Homo sapiens: one gene and its partners. The protein of the gene in region 1 purifies or fractionates together with the protein of each later gene. This does not show direct contact. Each region holds a gene or a part of one and is shown on either strand. Other genes may lie near its edges.

Region 1 (3,500 bases):
TATCTGAAGGGTAATGAGGAGTAGATTTCTTCAGGGGATTTTCTTGAATCTGGTTTTATTTTACATTTTATCAATGATCAGGTTTAGAGAGTTTGATCATATTTGTAAATAAGGCCTGTCTTGGAAGGAGGGGAAGGAAGAAAACAGAATTTTAAAATTAATCTGCATAAACTGGTAAGTGGCATGAAACCACAGCATAAAGCAAAGCAGATATTGTTGCACAAGTTTACTTTGGTCAGAACAATTGGGTCGGTAGTGTTATAAAGAGTGATATAGGAAATCTGTAAACTTTTTGCTGTAAACATTACATTTGGCTTAGGCCAAGCATGGTGGCTCACGCCTGTAATCGCAGCACTTTGGGAGGCCGAGGCGGGCAGATCACTTGAGGTCAGGAGTTCGAGACTAGCCTGGCCAACATGGTGAAACCCTGTCTCTACTAAAAATATAAAATTAGCTGGGTGTGTGGCGGTTGCCTATAATCCCAGCTACTAGGGAGGCTGAGGCAGGATAATTGCTTGAACCTGGGAGCTGGAGGTTGCAGTGAGCCGAGATTGTGCCACTATACTCCAGCCTGGGCAACAGAGGGAGAGACTCTGTCTCAAAAAAAAAAAAAAAAAAGCAAAAAAAAAAAGAGAAAATTATCTAGGTATGGTGGCACATACCCGCAGTCCCAGCTACTTGGGAGGCTGAAGCAGGAGGATCACTTGAGCTCAAGAGTTTGAGGCTGCAATAAGCTAGAATGCCGCCACTACACTCTGGCCTGGGTGACTGAGACCCTGTTGTTAAAAAAAATAAATAAAAATAAATTTGTTTTAAAAAATTGTATTAAAAAACATAACAGTTTATCATCTTACCTATTAAGTGTGTAGTTAATTAATGTTAACTACATTCGCATTGTTCTGTGTCCAGCCATTTTTTATATGGAACATCTACAACCTACAAATCCATTGAAGCTTTAAGAGTATATACTTTCGGCCTTGCACAGTGTCTCATGCCTGTAATCCCAGCACTTTGGGAGGCGGAGGCGGGCGGATCACCTGAGGTCAGGAGTTTAAGACCAGCCTGGCCAGCATGGTGAAACCCCGTCTCTACTAAAAATACAAAAAATTAGCTGGGTGCAGTGGCATGCACCTGTAATCGCAGCTACTTGGGAGGCTGAGGTAGGAGAATCGCTTGAACCTGGGAGGCGGAGGTTGTGGTGAGCTAAGATCACACCATTGCACTCCAGCCTGGGCGACACAGCGAGACTCAGTCTCACAGGAAAAAAAAAAAAAAAAAAAAAGTATATGCTTTTTTTTCTTTCTTTCTTTTTTGTTAAGAGTATATAGTTTGGCTAAAAGTGGTGGCTCTCATCTGTAATCCTACCACTTTGGGAGGCTGAGGTGGTAGGATCACTTGAGCCCAGGAGTTTGAGACCAGCCTGGGCAACCTAGCAAGACATTGTCTCTACTAAAAATAAAAATAGTTAGCCAGGCGTGGTGGCACATGCCTCTGGTCTCAGCTGCTAGGAAGGCCGAGGCAGGAGGATTGCTTGAGCCTGGGAGGTCAAGGATGCACTGAACCGTGAGTATGCCACCATTCTAGCATGGGCAATAGAACAAGACCTTGCCTCAAAAAACCCCCAGTATATACTTTTTTCCCCTCTTCCCCACTATGAAATAAACTTATATAATATTTACTACAGAAGGCTAGAAAAATATGTAGAAAAAAATGGGGGCTGGTCTGAGTGTCTCACGCCTATAATCCCAGCACTTTGGGAGGCCAAGGTGGGCAGAACACTTGAGGTCAGTAGTTCGAGACCAGCCTGGCCAACATGGTGAAACCCTGTCTCTACTAAAAAGACAAAAATTAGCTGGGCATGGTGTCGCACATCTGTAATCCCAGCTACTTAAGAGGCTGAGGCAAGAGAATCGCTTGAACCTGGGAGGCAGAAGTTGCAGTGAGCCAAGATTGCACCACTGTACTCCAGCTTGGGCAACAGAGTGAGACAATGTCTCAAAAACAAAAAGCAAAAAATACAAATAAAAATAAGAGAAAAAAGCTAGGTGTGGTGGTGTGCACCTGTAGTCCCAGCTACTGGGGAGGATGAGGTGGGAAGATTGCTTGAACCTAGGAGCTTAAGGCTGCAGTGAGCTATGATGACACCACTGTGCTCCAGCCTGGGTGCCAGAGTGAGACCCTGTCTCTAAAAAAAAGAAAAAAAAAGGAAAGAAAAATATGTAGAAAAATGGTAAACTAGCCACTCCAATTTACCAGATAGATACAACCATTATTAATATTGAGACAGTTTTTTTTTTTTTTTTTTTAATAGAGATGAAGTTTCACTATGTTGTCTAGGCGGTCTCAAACTCTTGGGCTCATGTACTCCTCCCACCTTGGCAACCCAAAGTGCTGGGATTACAGGTGTGAGCCACCATGTCTGGTTCCTTCTGAGTCTTAAACTGTAATGCCTCTTATCTAAAATATGACCCATCCAAGATCTGATTTCTATCTTGGTTTCCCAGTTTCCTCCCAATAAGTGCATCATTTCTGGTTGGAAACAGTATAGCAAAAGAGTGATTGAAATACAATTTTTTTTTTTTTTGAGACAGAGTCTCACTCTGTTGCCCAGGCCGGAGTGCAGTGGCATGATCTCAGCTTGCTGCAGCCTCCGTCTCCTGGGTTCAAGCAGTTCTCCTGCCTCGGCCTCCCGAGTAGCTGGGACTACAGGCATGCGCCACCATGCTGGCTAATTTTTGTATTTTTAGTAGAGACGGGGTATCACCATGTTGGCCAGGTTGGTCTCGAACTCTTGACCTCATGATCCACCCACCTCAGCCTCCTGAAGATGCCCTCTGGTCACCTTCAGTGAACACTCTCACCTACACTTTTACTAACCATCTTTTAGGGTGGGTTGTTTCTACAGATGCTGGAGCCTATTTATTTTGTGCTGATGTTTTGCTACTGTTACCCGATATAAACTAAATTCAGCTAGGCCATAGAAACTACATAGTAACAGCCGGGCGGGTGGCTCACGCCTGTAATCCCAGCACTTTGGGAGGCTGAGGTGGGTGGATTGCCTGAGGTCAGGAGTTCAAGACCAGCCTGGCCAATATGGTGAAACCCCGTCTCTACTAAAAATACAAAAATTAGCCAGGCGTGGTGGCAGACGCCTGTAATCCCAGCTACTTGGGAGGCTGGGGCAGGAGAATCGCTTGAACCTGGGAGGTGGAGGTTGCAGTAAGCCGAGATCGCACCACTGCACTCCAGCCTGGGCGACCAGAGTGAGACTCTGTCTCAAAAAAAAAAAAAAAAAAAAGAAAAAAGAAACTACATAGTACTTTAAACAGAGAACATTTAATAGGTTATAAACTATAACTGGGGATTCGAGTAACAAGGAATTGGCTAGTAAGAAGTAAAGAGATCTCTAAGAAATATAGAAATAGATACAGGAATCAGCTGAGTTAGAATGTACAAGGAAGAGGGTCCCTAGGGCAGAGTTCCAGACCTTGCTGGAGATG
Region 2 (3,500 bases), on another chromosome or scaffold:
CAACTATAGGCAAACAGGGAAAAATATATTTTTTTCATAAAGTACTGAATGTTAACTTTTTTCATCTGTTTGTAAAAAATATATGTGCAAAAGTGTGTTTCTAATTATTCCCTAAATAGCTGGTATAGCTATACTTCAGAGTCTTCTTTAACAAGATTTGCGGTGTCTTTAAAAGTGTCTTCTGTTGCAGAATAGGTTGGAGTTGGGTCTCTTCTCGAAGGAGGCTTAGGCTTAGCAGGGAGCGAAGGTGATGGAGGTGGTGTCGCAGCAACACTTTCCTTTTGCTCGTTCTCCATCTAAGAATACAATGTAACAGGAATCAGCCATTTATTCCCCCAAGGTCACCATACACGGTTTTTCATAAAGAAGACTATTTGTGGCCACTCTGCTCAGAATAATCTAAGTGTGTGTCCAATTTAACCAAGCAAATAATTTCTAAGAAAAAATGTCTGTGCTAAGAAAAATTGTTAAAAATTACCTGTGCATAGATTGGATTTTCAAAGTTGGTAGTTTGTTTAGATTTTCGTTTGAAGAGATTCCATTTTGTCACCTAAATGAAAAGGGGAAAACAAAAACCTCTCAGTAATGGAATTATTTTGTGGGTTTCTTTTCCTCCTGTCTCAGTTTTAAAATTTCTTCTTACTGAAGGGTAAAGCAATTTGGGACCTGGGACCATGTGATTCAGCCCATATGGTAAATTGTTCAATTCCTCCTATGGTCCCTGAACAGTAACTGAAACTCTGGGCTCTTTTAATCGAATGGTTTTAAACACTTCTTTGACTTCAAATTTATATATTATAGAATTTGTGCCATAGTATCTACAAGCAAATCACCTGGTTACCTCAGTACAGAGAGAACACATAAAACAGACATGCACAAGATGCATCTGGAGAAAAAGAGATTTCTGGGGCTGCCTGAAAATTGGGTGGAGATGGCAAAGCCAAACTGTAACTCTTATTCCCTAAAGTAACATTCTTTGGTCAACTCAAGAGTATCCCTTCTCCCTTCATCATTCCCTCCTGTGTCACAATAATAATAACAAAAACATCTAACATTTATTGAGTGCTTACTATGTGTCAGGAACTATTCTAAGAGTTTTACAAGTTTCTGATTTTTTTTAACAAACCCCAGAGGTAGGTACACTTATTATCCTATACTTGCTGAGTCACAGCAAGATTATACAACTAACTTGCAGGTAGAAGGGCAGGTAATGATTACTCAGGGGACCCAGAGGCCCATAAACTGGAGAACCCAAAGATAATCACCCTGGACCATGGTGCGTGGCCCACGCTTTACTGAAAAGTTGCCTGTCATGCTGACTGCCAGATAAAAACCTGGTGGGAGACAAGGGAACAGACAGCCTACTCTCAACAGGAGCTGAGGGAGCCCACAGGTTTTATGGGGTGTCTCTTACTCTGTGACAGCAGGGGACCAGCCTGTGGAGGAGTGGGGAACACAGGGCTACAGAAGTAGAAGAGGTCTTCACTTTAACCCACATTCAAGTGAGAACCTGCTTTGTACATAGTGCCCCCAAGGGGAACATGAAGACATTCAGGTCAGAGCCCTGCCTCTGGGCGCTTACAGTTAAGTGGGGCGGGCCAAAGTCTCTTAGATGTCATTGCTTCAAAATGAAATGGCTAACTTGAAGTTAAGCAATTACTAACAAGAGGAAAGGGACGGTGACTTTCATTTTTGTCTCCTTGGGGGATCCTATGCATATCAATGTAACTTTTGGAAAATGATAGAACTGAATCTTTTTTTTTTTTTTTTTGAGATGAAGTCTCACTCTGTCGCCTAGGCTGGAGTGCAGTGTCACAGTCTCGGCCCACTACAACCTCTGCCTCCCGGGTTCAAGCAATCCTCCCACCTCAGCCTCCTGAATAGCTGGGACTACAGGCATATGCCACCACACTCAGCTAATTTTTGCATTTTTAGTAGAGATGGGGTTTCACTATGTTGGCCAGGTTGGTCTTGAACTCCTGATGTCATGATCCACCCACCTCGGCCTCCCAAAGAGCTGGGATTACAGGTGTGAGCCACCGTGCCCAGCCCATGTTTTTAATTGTTAGTCTTTCAACATATTTATGGATGAAAGATACATTTGTGGGACTCTGGCATATTCAAATCAACCTAGGTGATCTCACCCAAGCGCCTCTACTGCTTTTAAAGCATGCTGGCTGTTAACTCAGTGCCCAGGAGGGAAGAAATACAGTGAGATCCCTGGACATAACATGGAAGACACATTTTAGAGGGTCTCAGCCTCACTAATGTAAAAAAGTAAGAGGAGGAACCAAGGTATTACAAAAGGGAAGAGAAAGAAAGGACTACAATTGGTGAAGATCTGCTCTCCTTTGAAAGAGACTGTCAGTTTACATTTTGTTTCTGATAACAGACATGCAGATCAGAGGTTACAGCCTCCCCACCACAGTCCCCTTCCTGCACCAGCTGGGGAAAATGTCTATTTAGTGAAGAAGATCACTAGACTAGAGATGGACTGAGAAAAAATGTTGAAAATATAAAATAAATCTGGCACTAGCTTGGGGTTGACTCAGGCTTGGAGGACCAAATATATGACATTCAAGCATCCGTGTGTCTGTGGAAAATTAATCTTCAAAATCCATTTTTAATATAGCTTAAAGAAAAAATGTTTAGTCCCTTGAAAAATCTGAAACTGAAAATTCCTTTCTAGACAATATTTATGTATGTCTGTGAGTGTATGAGTGTGTGTGTGTGTGTGTGTGTGTGTGTGTGTGTGACATGAGAAGAAGAAATAAGGGAATTTGAGAAGGTGTACAGAAGCCTTGATATAGACTCTTCTCAGCATCAATTTAGGTCAAATTTTATTTTGATTTAAATCAGCAGAACAGAAACCAATGTTTAAGGTGATAATGAGACTGCCAAGTTACCAAGATATCAATGTTTATAGACTATGAAATTTGAGAAATAAAGATTGTATAAAATGGTAAAATTTCCAACTACTCTTAGACTTTCATTTCTTTACATTACTTCACAAAATTGGTCATAGAATCTTAGAACAGAGACATTCCAGATCCTAGCGGTTCTCAACCAGGAGTGAGTGCACATGTGTTGGGGAGGGGAGGTGATTTCTGGGGTCACACTGAATTAGGGGAGACACTACTGGAATTTAGTGGACAGGGACCAGAAATACTGAAATTCCCTGAGTGCATAGGACAGTTTTGTAGCACAAAGAACTGTCCCACTCAATATGCCAATAGCGCCCCCAGTGAGAAATATTATTGAGGACTCTAGCCCCAGAAGTAAAACAGTTTGTCCAGATTCAAACAGCTATATCTGGTATAGCTGCAAATGCATTCATTAAAACTAATGATATACATTAATACAGAGTTTAATATCAAATATATTTATTGAATTTCTTCCTGCAGACCAAATAGTGTACCAATTGCAAAGGACCTGCAGGCATGTTTAAGAAGCTCCATCTAGTGGCATTTTTTTCTTTCAATCTCCAGTATTAAACACCA
Region 3 (3,500 bases), on another chromosome or scaffold:
GATCATGCCACTGCACTCCAGCCTAGGCTAAAGTGTGAGACTCCATCTCAAAAAAACAAAACAAAACAAAGCTAAATAAGGCCGGGCATGGTGGCTCATGCCTGTAATCCCAGCACTTTGGGAGGCCAAGGCAGGCAGATCACTTGAGATCAGTTCAAGACCAGACTGGCCAACATGGTGAAACACAGATATATTCATATATACATATGTATACACAAATACATATATATGCAGACATCTATTCATATTTGCTTATATCTGCCTTAAGACACACTGGAAGGATACCAAATAAACTAATAAAAATAGTTATCTGTGGGGGAATTAGGTGCACAGTAATAAAGACAGAAGTGAGAATTCTCACTGTATACCTTTTGATTTCTGAACTATGTTCATTTTTCACCTATTCAAAAAATAAATAATTATGATGTGGGGAAATCAGCATCCCTAGCAGGAGCCTTCTAACCTTAGAAATGTGTCTGGGAACCTGGCATCATGAGGGTTGCCTGCTCTGCTCCTCAGAAGATAAAGCCTGGAGGTAGATGGGTGGCTTCTGACTAGACTGTCACCAACTACGACTCACCTTTCCATAAGTGACTTGCCTAAAATGATAGTGCCAGAAAACAGACAAGGCCCTGCCAGGGTGAGGAGGGAACCTGACACACCCTGTGACCTCTTGACACTACTACTTGATGACTTGCTCCACACCCATCTAATATGCCTCTAATGGCAGCAGACTGCAAAGGCCTAGAAAGAAGACAGGTCCAGAGTTGGTTGCCATTGGAATGCAGTCTGAATTTTATTCAGCTCAAGGCATCAGTACTCCTTTTGGAGTAGTACTGGGAGAAAAAATAAAGGCTCAAGGGGAGCCCCTGGGAGTTAGGTGAGCAGTGAATGGGGGAAGGGCCATGAAACCTCATTGCCTAGTGTCCTGGTTTGGAAAATGTGATAATCTCTAGATAGCCAGGAAAGAGAAAGGATTAATTGGTATTTACAGAATGAGGGCAATAAGGATCCTGGAGGATGCTGTCCCATGAATACAACTCTTAAGGATTCACCTCACTCATTGTACTTGCCTGGTAATCGTGAGCTTCTCCTCATACTTGCCCCAGGATGATACAACTGACTCTGGTCTGGCAAGGCTGGCAGAGAAATGACCTATTGAAGGTGGCAGCTTTCACATCAAAATGCAGAGTGCATGGCTGTATCAAAAGCTGGTCTTTTCAGTAGATCCCAGGAAAAAAATAGGTCAGTACATACAGTTCCCCACTTCCTATTTGTTTTTGTTTTTTTTTTTTTGAGATGGAGTCTCACTCTGTCACCCAGGCTGGAGTGCAGTGGCACAATCTCGGCTCACTGCAACCTCCTACTCCCGGGTTCAAGCAATTCTCCTGTCTAGCCTCCTGAGTAGCTGGGACTACAGGTGTGTGCCACCACGCCCAGCTAATTTTTGTATTTTTAGTAGAGACGGGGTTTCACCATGTTGGCCAGGATGGCTCTTGAACTCGTGATCCACCCACCTTGGCCTCCCAAAGTGCTGGGATTACAGGTGTGAGCCACTGTGCCCAGCCTTCCTATTTGTTAGACAGTAGGCAGGTAGAAGAGGCCTGCAGGGAGCCTGGCTGATTACCTGAAGCACTACATCATAAAAATGCAGAGAGAACTTATTAGGAGAGTCCAGAAGTTCAATCACGGACAGGAAGATGGAACCTAGTAAGAGTTCCTGTAGAGGAAAGGAAGCTACCCAGCTACTATCACAAGACAGAAACAAGCAGCTGACTGTTTTACAGGAGAAATCTTTCAGAGTGACCTCAGAAAAAAATCTGAACCACTGGATCTCTGTGGCATCCACCTCTAGATTGATTCTGGAAGGCCTTATTCTTGTAGTCACCATTACTCCTTTGACCTAAATCTCTATTGGGTGAGGGTGGAGAGAAGAACACAGTGACTTCACCATGGGTCCCGCTGCCCATGAATATTTTCTACTAGTTCCACTGCTACCTGTTGCCCCACCAAACCTGCCATCAGACCAACTCACCTGTACTGGCTCCTCCAAGACTCCACTGCAAATAGGGCAGATAAGATCTTCGTCAACATCCCCCTGGAAACGGGTTACATCATACCCCATGTCTCATCACTGAAACCCAGGTCCTGAAAGGACAACAGGAAAAAGAGGCCAGTTCAGAAGAAGCCTACAAATATGTGACAAACATACACTCATTGCCAAGATCCATTCATTTATCCAACAAATATTTACTGGGAGTCTACTATGCAGCAGTCATTTGGCTCGGTGGAAGCTGACTCAAGAAATTTAATTCTGGCCAGGTGCAGTGGATCACGCCTGTAATCCCAACACTTTGGGAGGCCGAGGCAGGCGGATCACCTGAGGTCAGGAGTTCAAGACCAGCCTGGCCAACATGGTGAAACCCTGTCTCTACTAAAAATACAAAAATTAGCTGGGTGTGGTATGCGCATCTGTAATCCCAGCTACTCGGGAGGCTGAGGCAGGAGAAGCATTTGAACCCAGGAGGCAGAGGTTGCAGTGAGCCGAGATCGCGCCACTGCACTCCAGCCTGGGGAACACAGCGAGCCTCAGTCTCTAAAAAAAAAAAAAAAATTAATTCTAAGGCCTGGCACAGTGGCTCACGCCTGTAATCCCAGCACTTTGGGAGGCCGGGACAGGCAGATGAGCTGAGGTCAGGAGTTCAAGACCAGCCTGGCCAACATGATGAAAACCCAGCTCTACTAAAAATACAAAAATTAGCTGGGCGTGGTGATGCACATCTGTAATCCCAGCTACTTGGAAGGCTGAGGCACAAGAATCACTTGAACCCAGGAGGCAGAGGCTGCAGTGAGCCGAGATTGCACCACAGCTCTCTAGCCTAGGCAACAGAGTAAGACTCTGCCTTAAAAAAAAAAGAAAAAAAGAAATGTAATTCTAATGGGGGAAGACATTATATAAGCACACATTTAAAATATAAAGTGATAAATACTCAGAGTAGAGACAGGACCTTATGAGGACAAGAGACATGAATACCTAACCCAGGCTGAAAGCAGAGGGTGGTTTTGACAAGTTTTCCAGGACTGGGCGTCACCAGAAACGTGTCCTGTAGGGCAAGAGTCAGCTAAATGTTGGGGGAGCAGGGCATTAGGGTGTTATGCACATAAAATAGCACATCCAAATGCCCAGAAGAGGGCATATGATAGGTTCAGAGAATTTCAAGTGATTCAAGAAAAGGCTGACCTGAGAGGTGGGAGGGAGGGCCTGTCAAGAGACAAGGCTGGAGAGGCAAGCAAGGGCCATGCTGTGAAAAGTCTGTGAGGATTTTGGACTTTATTCTGAAGGGTATGAGAGAGCCACTGAAGGACTTAAAAAACAATGTGATAATAGTTCCATTTTAGAATCAGTATGTTAACAGGGGAGAAACTGGAGACCGGAAGAACATCTAAGTCAGGAGAGTGACGGTAAGAGTCTGAACTTAGGTGGTGGTGGTGATGGGGAT
Region 4 (3,500 bases), on another chromosome or scaffold:
AATAAATAATTGGATTTCATTATAATTAAGAACTTCTGGCTGGGAGCTGTGGCTCACACCTGTAATCTCAGCACTTTGGGAGGCCGAGGCAGGTGGATCACGAGGTCAAGAGATTGAGACCATCCTGGCCAACATGGTGAAACCCCGTCTCTACTAAAAATACACAAATTAGCTGGATGTGGTGGTGCGTGCCTATAGTCCTAGCTACCTGGGAGGCTGAAGCAGGAGAATCGCTTGAACCCGGGAGGCGGAGGTTGCATTAAGAAAGCAAAAAGAGGCCGGACGCGGTGGCCCACACCTGTAATCCCAGCACTTTGGGAGGCTGAGGTGGGTGGATCACCTGAGGTTGGGAGTTCGAGACCAGCCTGACCAACATAGAGAAACCCTGTCTCTACTAAAAATACAAAAATTAGCCGGGCGTGGTGGCGCATGCCTGTAATCTCAGCTACTTGGGAAGCTGAGGCAGGAGAATCACTTGAACCCGGGAGGTGGAGGTTGCGGTGTGCTGAGATGGCGCCATTGCACTTCAGCCTGGGCCACAAGAGCGAAACTCTGTCTCCAAAAAAAAAAAAAAAAAAGGAAAAAAAAAGAAAGCAAAAAGAGGTCGGGCGCAGTGGCTCATGACTGTAATTCCAGCACTTTAGGAGGCGGAGGTGGGTGGATCACTTGAGGTCAGGAGTTCGAGACCAGCCTGGCCAACATGGCAAAACCCCATCTCTACTAAAAACACAAAAATTAGCTGGGTTTAGTGGCAGGTGTGTGTAATCCCAGCTACTTGGGAGGTTGAGACAGGAGAATCTCTTGAACCTGGGAGGCAGAGGTTGCAGTGAGCCAAGATAGCACCACTGCACTCCAGCCTGGGTGACAGAGCGAGACTGTGTTTCAAAAAAAAAAAAGAAGGAGAAAGCAAAAAGAAAAAAGTGGGAGAAGATATTTTCAGTACTGTACATATATACAGTAGTGAAACTTGTATCCAGCGTATATAAATACCCTTACAAACCCTTACAAAATGAACATGATAGACAGCTCAATTTTAAAAAATGGCAAAAGAGGGCTGGGCGCGGTGGCTCATGCCTATAATCCTAGCACTTTGGGAGGCTGTGGCGGGCAGATTGCTTGAGGTCAGGAGTTCGAGACAAGCCTGGCCAGCATAGCGAAACCCTGTCTCTATTAAAAATACAAAAATTAGCTGGGCATGGTGGTGTGTTCCTGTAATCCCAGTTACTCGGGAGGCTGAGGCAGGAGAATCACTTGAACCTGGGAGGCAGAGGTTGCAGTGAGCTGAGATTGTGCCACTGCACTCCAGCCCGATGACAGAGGGAGACTCCATCTCAAAAAAAAAAAAAAAAAGCAAAATACATGAATAAGCATGCCACAAAAAAATCCATATATGTCCAAGGAGTATGTTAAATGATGCTCAACTTAATTAGTTATTTGGGAAAAGCAAATTAAACAATGCAACACCATTACATACCTGCCAGAATGGAAAAGATGAAAAAGAAAGTGCCAGATATTGACAAGGATCTCTTGCAAACTACAGATAGGAGTCTAAATTGGTACAATGACTTTGGAAAACCATTTGGCAGAATCTGTTAAAGCTAAATATATGAATGCTCTGTGACTCTATAGTTATACCCCTAAGTATGGAACCAGAAAAGTGTACATATGCATGTAGATATACATGCTCAAGTCTTATGTTCTTAGCAGTAGTTTTTTTTTTTCTTGAGACAGGGTCTTGCTCTGTTGCCCAGACTGAAGTGTGCAGTGGTGATCACAGCTCACTGCAGCCTCAAACTCCTGGGCTGAAGCAATCCTTCCACCTCAGCCTCCTGAGTAGCTAGGACTACAAGGGTACACCACCACGCCTGGCTGATTTTTCAATTTTTTGTAGAGATGAGGTCTCATTATGTTGCCTAGGCTGGTCTTGAACTCCTGGCATCAAGTGATCCTCCTGTCTTGGCCTCCCAAAGTGCTAGGATTACTGGCATAAGCCACCATGCCTGGCCTAGCAGCACTATTTTTGGTGGTCAAAAACTGGAAACAGGCCGGGTGTGGTGGTTCATACCTGTAATTCCAGCATTTTGGGAGGCTGAGGCAGGCAGATCACGTGAGCCCAAGAGTTCAAGACCAGACTAGGCAACATGACGAAACTCCCATCTCTATTAAAAATGCAGAAAATTAGCCAGCATGGTGGTGCGTGCCTATAGTCCCAGCTACCCATGAGGCTGAGATGGGAGGATCACCTGAGCCTGGGAGGTTGAGGCTACAGTGAACAGAGATGGTACCACTGCACTCCAACCTGGGGGACCAGAACGAGACCCTGTCTCAAGAAACACAAAACAAAACTGCAAACAGCTCAAATGTCCATCTTCTGTAGACAAGTAAATTTTGCTGTGTTTATACAATAGAATATTATCCAGCAATGCAAATGAACAAACTATAACTACACACAGCTGCATGGATAAATGTCAGAAACATGACGTTGAGTGTGAGAAGCCAGATGCAAACGAGGACTCACTGTGCAATTCTGTGCATGTACAGTGGCCAGGTGAGGCTTATGGAGTGCTGAAATGCTCTGTATCCCAATCTGGAGGGTGGTTTTAAAAAAATGTTTTGAGCCAGTGCGTTGGTTCACACCTGTAATTCCAGCACTTTGGGAGGCCAAGGTGGGCAGGTCACTTGAGGTCAGGAGTTCGAGACCAGCCTGGCCAACATGGTAAAACCCTGTCTCTACTAAAAATACAAAAATTAGCTGGGCATGGTGGCACACACCTGTAATCCCAGCTATTTACAAGGCTGAGGCACAGAGCAGGGCTCTGTCTCAAAAAAAAAAATCATAAATAAAAAATAAAATTTAAAAAATACTTGATTTTAATTTTTTTAGAGATGGGGGTCTCGCTGTGTCACTCAGGCTGGTCTTGAACTCTTGGGCTCAAGCAATCCTCTCACCTTGGCCTCCCAAAGTGCTGGGATTTCAGGTATAAACCACCACGCCTGGCCCTGGAGGGTGGTTATACTTGTGTAGTAAAAACTCATGAAACCTTACACTTATGATTTGTGGTAGACTTTTCTGTATTAATGTTATATATATATATATTTTTTTTTCTTTTTTAACCTTTTTTTGGTAGAGACGGGCCCTGCTAAGTTGCCCAGGCTGGTCTTGAACTCCTGTGCTCAAGTAATCCTCCCTCCCTGGCCTCCCAAAGTGCTAGGATTACAGGTGTGAGCCACTGCTCCCAGCCTAAATAAAAAGTTTGCTTCTCCCCTCCTTTTCTCCCCAAAAACCAGGGTGTTATCAGGAAATCTACTTAACTAGGCCTAGGTGAATTGCAATAGGTTGCATTATGCTAAAAGCAAATGTACAGGTTGGGGGGGTGTTGTTGTCAGCTCCGCCATGTCGTGGACCTGCCCCCTTTTCAGGACACCTCACGTCACCTTCCATAACAGAACAGGTAACGTGACATATGAGGTGCACTGTTGACAAGTGACACTGGTGACAA

The links. The genes of interacting proteins can lie anywhere in the genome.
Region 2: the proteins of ARHGAP19 (region 1) and LRP2 purify together in Homo sapiens (affinity purification with mass spectrometry; 2 studies listed by BioGRID and IntAct, with this or other methods). This does not show direct contact.
Region 3: the proteins of ARHGAP19 (region 1) and RNF41 purify together in Homo sapiens (affinity purification with mass spectrometry; 2 studies listed by BioGRID and IntAct, with this or other methods). This does not show direct contact.
Region 4: the proteins of ARHGAP19 (region 1) and CBY1 purify together in Homo sapiens (affinity purification with mass spectrometry; one large-scale study listed by BioGRID and IntAct). This does not show direct contact.

Annotation. Positions count from the first base shown.
Region 1 is NC_000010.11:97,282,638-97,286,137, reverse strand, and holds part of ARHGAP19 (rho GTPase-activating protein 19), read left to right. Parts: intron 1-3,500. UniProt on the Homo sapiens protein: GTPase activator for the Rho-type GTPases by converting them to an inactive GDP-bound state.
Region 2 is NC_000002.12:169,128,535-169,132,034, forward strand, and holds part of LRP2 (low-density lipoprotein receptor-related protein 2 precursor), read right to left. Parts: intron 551-3,500; coding exon 479-550; intron 297-478; coding exon 129-296; 3' UTR 1-128. UniProt on the Homo sapiens protein: Multiligand endocytic receptor. Acts together with CUBN to mediate endocytosis of high-density lipoproteins. Mediates receptor-mediated uptake of polybasic drugs such as aprotinin, aminoglycosides and polymyxin B.
Region 3 is NC_000012.12:56,211,923-56,215,422, forward strand, and holds part of RNF41 (E3 ubiquitin-protein ligase NRDP1), read right to left. Parts: intron 2,149-3,500; 5' UTR 2,126-2,148; coding exon 2,036-2,125; intron 1,217-2,035; exon of another isoform or gene 1,074-1,216; intron 1-1,073. UniProt on the Homo sapiens protein: Acts as E3 ubiquitin-protein ligase and regulates the degradation of target proteins. Polyubiquitinates MYD88. Negatively regulates MYD88-dependent production of pro-inflammatory cytokines.
Region 4 is NC_000022.11:38,663,138-38,666,637, forward strand, and holds part of CBY1 (protein chibby homolog 1), read left to right. Parts: intron 1-2,408; exon of another isoform or gene 2,409-2,548; intron 2,549-3,500. UniProt on the Homo sapiens protein: Inhibits the Wnt/Wingless pathway by binding to CTNNB1/beta-catenin and inhibiting beta-catenin-mediated transcriptional activation through competition with TCF/LEF transcription factors.